Homo sapiens: one gene and its partner. The protein of the gene in region 1 purifies or fractionates together with the protein of each later gene. This does not show direct contact. Each region holds a gene or a part of one and is shown on either strand. Other genes may lie near its edges.

Evidence for each region.
Region 2: the proteins of LIPF (region 1) and TCN2 purify together in Homo sapiens (affinity purification with mass spectrometry, with the first as the bait; one large-scale study listed by BioGRID). This does not show direct contact.

What each region holds. Positions count from the first base shown.
Region 1 is NC_000010.11:88,676,732-88,679,321, reverse strand, and holds the end of LIPF (gastric triacylglycerol lipase isoform 2 precursor), read right to left. Parts: intron 878-2,590; coding exon 641-877; 3' UTR 508-640; downstream 1-507. UniProt on the Homo sapiens protein: Catalyzes the hydrolysis of triacylglycerols to yield free fatty acids, diacylglycerol, monoacylglycerol, and glycerol. Shows a preferential hydrolysis at the sn-3 position of triacylglycerol.
Region 2 is NC_000022.11:30,605,611-30,609,363, forward strand, and holds the start of TCN2 (transcobalamin-2 isoform 1 precursor), read left to right. Parts: upstream 1-1,563; 5' UTR 1,564-1,721; coding exon 1,722-1,785; intron 1,786-3,753. UniProt on the Homo sapiens protein: Primary vitamin B12-binding and transport protein. Delivers cobalamin to cells.

The DNA of each region.
Region 1 (2,590 bases):
AAAACATGAGGGCAGAACAATAATAATAATAATAATAATAATAATAATAATAATAATAATAGAGCATACCCTTTTCTTCCCAAATTCCTGACTCAGGGTTGACTTCATCTGCTGCTTCCCAAACTACCCTTGCTCTCCACTCCCTGGGAAGTGAAAGTGAGTTGATTCAGTTTATATCCCAATTGGCCTTTCCATGGGGTTAAATATGCAAAATAGCAAGTGATAGGCCCCACTACACAGATGGAAAGACTTAGCTTCATCAACAATAGAAAGCAATATACTCAGTATCAAGTGTACATAAGCAGAGCGAATATGAAGCCAACACTGTCCTTTAGAAACACTTATGGCTCACAGCTCATATATAAGTGAGTTCAGAAGAGAAACTGAATGGGAAAATGAGAAGTTTCACCTCCCCAGAAATATATTCTCTCAAGTATTTCTAGATAAATTTCCAGGTGAAAAATCAAATTTCTTTAAATTAAAAAAATTCAAAATGACAAATGGAAGTTTGTTGATGCCAATATATTTCTAAAGTCAAAATTACAGAAAGAAGCACTGCATGTCAAACATTATGAAAATACTATGTATGAGAGAATAAAGTATTTTGGAAAAACAAACGGATAATTCTTTAAATCCAGAACTACTTTTTATCTTCTGATATCATAGAAACAATGTCATTGTAAACTTCTTGAGGGGCATCCATTGCCCAGATAAAGTCCAAGTGATTGTAAAAAGGAATCTCCTTGTGGTAAATAAGATTGGGGAGTTTTGGAAGCAAAAGGCCAACATCTTGGGGGTCAGCCAACAGGTCCTTGCCACCGTTCCACACTGCAATTGGTACATTCATGGCTGTCACATTGTAGTAGGGAGGTTGGGACTAGAAAACACAAGAGAAAGAACCAGAGTTTAGGTAACCACACTTTAAACCCAGTACTTACTATTCAAGTAGAGTGTATAACATTAACTGGCGGTTTTATAAGTGAATTCTAGCAATGATTGCACAGAGAAAACCACCTTTATCCACAGAGCAAAGTGAATGCAATATGTTTTAGATAAGTGCTTGTCAAATTCTAATGGGCCTGTGAATTACCTGAAGATCTTGTTGAAGTAAAAATTCTGTTTCAGTAGATCTGGGGAACAGCCTGAGATTCTGCATTCATAGGTGATGCTGATGCCATTGGCTCCAAACCATGCTCTGAATAGCAAGGCTTTGGACAGTAAGTCTTACAAATTAAGAACATAGATTGCAACTCAAGCTAAGGGAAATGGATTTGATTAGATTCTAATTGTTAATAGGTTGTTTCTACCCAAACACTCTAAAATATGATCTCAAAATGTCCTGAGTCATTTATTTTGGCTTTGTATTGACTTCCCAGTTATGGTCAGGGGATAGGTCAGTTGTTTCAGTTATGGAGCTGTAATTGTTGAATACTTACCTGAGTATTTACAAAATGTTGCTTCAAATTCTGAGAAAGGGTATTATCATCCCCATGTCCTGTTTCTCGAAAATCACAATTCACACATAGATTTTAAAGAGGTTTACAAAGCAGAAAAAGGAATAAGAGAATTATCTCAAATTTTCTTGCTGCCCAGAGAGAATTTTGTTAGATTTTTTTAGATCATAGTTTCAAGAATAGTAATCCAATATACTAAAAGTTTCTGTATTCTCACATTTTGTGTAATAGCCAACTTGCCATAGCAAAATATTTTATGATATGTAATTTTCCCTAATATTTTCATGATTTCTATTATATTTCCTAAATATTAGAGAAAAGGGAGTGTGTGGAGAATATTCATAATTATAAACCCAGCTTATTTTACTTACATCCTATTATTCAAAGAGTTTTCTAGATGCTGGCCCTGGCTCTTAAATTAGTGTCATTGCTTCAGTTAGTTAAAGACCAACCTGGTATATTATTGGTTTAGTTGGAAGAAGGGTGGACTTGGGGACTGGGTTTCTTGTTCCTCTAAGATGAAGTCCTCTGATTATGAGTATTAGAGTCCAGTAGAAAGAGAGACTCAAAGCAAGCCTGTGTGTTTTGGAGATTTGAGAAAGTGATGGTGGAGGAAAAAATGTTTTCAACAAAAGTTTGATCTCATGCTATTCTGAAAACTTTAAAGATATCAAAAATGCAAAATCAAGGTTGGGGGGCACCTTCTCTACACATAAGACATTGTTGTTAAAACATATAAATTCCTTCTAAATTTTAAGTCATGGAAACAAATGAAAATTAGTAGAGTTGTTCAGCTACTACTTGGATGGAAAAATTGGATGTGGTGAAAAGGAAGAAGAGAAGGTTACAAAATACTATAGGGTGCTTCCCTTGTTCAAAAATAGTCAGTGATAACCCGAGAGCTTACCCTGAGCTAAGAGCTTATAGATATTATAGCACTAAATCCTGTCAACAACTTCCTGAGCCTGGGTGGAGAGATGAAGAAATGACTGCCCAAACTCATATTGACTGCAGATAAGATAAGCTCCAAAGTCTGGATTCTTATTACAGCAAGTGTGAGGACTGCTTAATATGTCTGCCTATGCCAAAGGCCTCTGCCTATTGTAAAATATTTCCAGCCTTGACCTGCAAGCACG
Region 2 (3,753 bases), on another chromosome or scaffold:
CACACACTTCACCATGACTCCCCTGAAGGTCCAAACGTGCGGTTCTGCGGAAGTTGGGCTCCCCACTGGCCTCCCTCCTTCCTCAGAACCTCCAGGGGTGCTCCTCCTAGTGGCCACATCCAGCCTTTCTGACTGGACAACCTATCATTTAAAATTTTCAAGTAGTTCCGTAAACAGACACACGTTGCTGTATTTATTTATGTCAAGGGCTTGGTTTGTGATAAATCAGGCTCAAAAAGATTGTCTTAAAAGAGTGAACCTTGGCAATTTACCATAAAATAATTGCAATGCAGATTGTGCATGGAAATGATTGGAGATATTTTAAGGTCATAGTGTCTTCACAAATTGAGCTGAAAGGGAACTGTTAGGATGATCTTGCCTAACCCTCTCTTCTCACACAGGAAGAACTATTTTAAACTCGAGAGGTTAAGTGACCTGGCCAAAGTCACACAGCCACCACTAGTTAACTCGTATACATTGATTCTCCTGTGGGGCTGGGCAGATGAGGAATCTTTTGTTCTCTTCCCTGTTTGCAGAGATTTTTTTTGAGGTTACTTTCCGAGTTCTGGCAAGTACCCCTGCTTCTGGTAGCTTTGTGTCTCGATTCAATCTCATTCTTTTTATTTTATTTTATTTTTGAGACAGGGTCTCACTTTGTCACCCAAGCTGGAGTGCAGTGGTGTAATCTTGGCTCACTGTAGCCTCCACCTCTTGGGTTCAAGCGATCCTCCTGCCTCAGCCCCCCAAGTAGCTGGGATTACAGACGTCTGCCACCACGCCAGGCTAATTTATGGTTTTTTGTATGTGTTTTTTGTGTTTTTGTAGAGACAGTGTTTCCCCATGTTGCCCAGGCTGGTCTCCAACTCCTGAGCTCAAGTGATCTGCCCGCCTCAGCCTTTCAAAGTGCTAGGATTACAGGTGTGAGCCACCGTGCCCGGACTTAATCCCATTCTTTAACTTGTTTTGTTTTGTCCTCTCCAGGAGGCTCCCAGCCCTTTCGGATTGGTTGAGAAAAGTGGCCTGGCTGGTCTGGGGCCAGCGGCACCCACCCTCCCCTCAATTGCCCAACTCCCCCCCCCCACCGAACTGCCCAACTCCCCCTCCCCAACTGCCCAACTCCCCCACCCCCACAATCCCCTCCCGCCACAACTGAGGGAGGCGGTGCTGAAAAACAGCTGACTCCAGCAATGCTGCTCACGTGACCACTGCAGCTGCAGCTCCCGTTCCACTCCTTGTCCTGGGCTAGGTGGGCACTACCAGGGGCTCCTTTGGTAAGGAGTACCGGGTAGGCACCCGGTCCTGCCAATCCACCACTGGAACAGCTGGGGGGACAGCAGACAGGCACGGTCGGACAGACTTGACAGATCAGGCATCAGGCCCTCTGCGCTGGTCCCGGGCTCTTTAAGCAGGAACGTGAATGGCCTCAAGATGTCTCACATGGTCCCACTAGCCCTCCTCCTCCCTTTGTTCCCTACCTCCAGGAGGGCTGCTCTGCCCTTCCTTCCTCTGTTCTTTGGCCTTATGTTCCCCGCCACCACAGACCTTCCCCCGCCCCACCCCTCTGCAGACTTAGCCGTGCATTGCAGGCATGGAGGATTAATCAGTGACAGGAAGCTGCGTCTCTCGGAGCGGTGACCAGCTGTGGTCAGGAGAGCCTCAGCAGGGCCAGCCCCAGGAGTCTTTCCCGATTCTTGCTCACTGCTCACCCACCTGCTGCTGCCATGAGGCACCTTGGGGCCTTCCTCTTCCTTCTGGGGGTCCTGGGGGCCCTCACTGAGATGTGTGGTGAGTAACTCGCCTCTATCCTGTGCCTCTTTCCTCCTGGGTCCTTAGTGGGGTGGCTAGGGCATAGGATGAGGGAACTTACCTGCCCTTCTAAGCTCCCATAGCAGTTTGGGCTTAGCTGGACCTCAGCATTTAACACATCCTATTGTGATTGATTATATGTTTGACTCCTCACCAGACAAGATCTCCGTTAATTCAGTCATTCGTTCACACATTCATTCAGCGCATACTGAGCCTTTTCTGTGTCAGGCCCAGTGTTAGCCTTTGGGGAACGTGCAAAGCATGAGACAAGTCTAATCCCTGCCATCCTAGAGCTTATGTTCTAGGGAAGGGGGACAGACAAAAGAAATGGTTAGGTGCTCCCACCTGAAATCTCAGCATTTTGGAAGGCTGAGGCGGGAGGGGAGGATCGCTTGAGCTCAACAGTTCAAGGTCAGCCTGGGCAACATAGGGAGACCCCATCTCTACAAAAAATAAAAAAAATTAAAAAATAGCTGGGCATGGGGAAGACTTTCTGAAGACCAAGAGGACACATGGGAGCTGAAACTCGAAGGAAGAAAAGGAGCTGGCAGGAAAGGAGTGGGGGACACACATTCTAGGCAGCAGGAAGTGAGCCTTCGGAGGTCCTGCCTGCTCCAGCTCTGTGCCCCAAGGGGTCTCTTGGAGCACAGTCTCCTGGGACCTGTCTATGAGTCTGAGCTTAGAGGCTCAGGGCTGCTCCTTCAGACAGGAGGCAGAAGGCAGGCTTTGGGAACTTTGGGCCGCCCACGCGCCTTTTCTCCTCCTCTGCACCTAGGATTACGTTGAGCAATACACTTTCACCCCCATGGTCTCTTGAGACCCTGGGGAAACCCTGAGAGGTGGGTGCAGTCATGTCCAGGTGTCAAGTGAAGAAGTCGAGGGTTGGAGGGGCTGAGTGACCCACTCAGGGTGCTCCACCTTTTCCAGAGCTTTGCTGAACTTAGTTTTTAGAACTTGAAGCCTCGTTTGTTTTCGTTTTGTTTTTTGTTGAGAGAGGTTCTCCCTCTGTTGCCCAGGCTGGAGTGCAGTGGCACGATCTTGGCTCACTGCAGCCTCTGCCTTGTGGGTTCAAGTGATTCCCCCACCTCAGCCTCCCAAGTAGCTGGAGACTGCATGTGCATACTACCATGCTTGGCTAATTTTTGTATTTTTTTGTAGAGACAGGGTTTCGCCATGTTGCCCAGGCTGGTCTCGAACTCCTGGGCTCAAGTGAAACTCTTGCGTCGGCCTCCCAAATTGCTGAGATTACAGGCGTGAGCCACCGTGCCCGGCCAGAACTCCAAGCCTCTCATCTGTGTTCCATAAATGCAATCAGACACCTCAGGTCTGGGCCCAGGAACCCCAGCTCTTGGTTCATGTCCGGACAGTCCCCAGGGGAGTTCTGGGTTCAACCAGCAAGAGCTCTTCCTCCTGGCTGATCTGGTCCTCAGCCTTGGACAGTTAGTCCATTAACCTGACCCCACAGGAGCCCCAATCCCTTGGGGTCTGGGGAATCTTGAACTGGGGTTTGGGGTGCAAATATCTGCACTGAGTCACTTAATTGCACCCAGCCTCATTCCTTTATCTGTAAAGTGGGCTAAGAATGCTCCCCTGCCTTCCTCCTCGGTGTAGTACAAGGAAGGATCCCATGACACCTGCTCTCCCAGTTTAAAGCTCTATATGTATGTTGTGAAATTGACAGGGATCGCTGCACAAACGCTAATGCAAAGTGGGCTCCTGTGCTTCCTTTTCTCTTTCTTCTTCTTTTTTTTTTTTTTAATTTTCTTCTAGAGATGAGGTCTCACTATATTGCCCAGGGTTGGTTTCAAACTCCTAGGGTCAAGCGATCCTCCCACCTTGGCCTCCCAAACTGCTGGTATTACAGGCGTGAGCCACTCTGTCTGGCTCCTGTGCTTGTGAATGTCAACAGCAATCAGCCCTTAGCTGGCAGGGCTGGGTTGGTAGGGC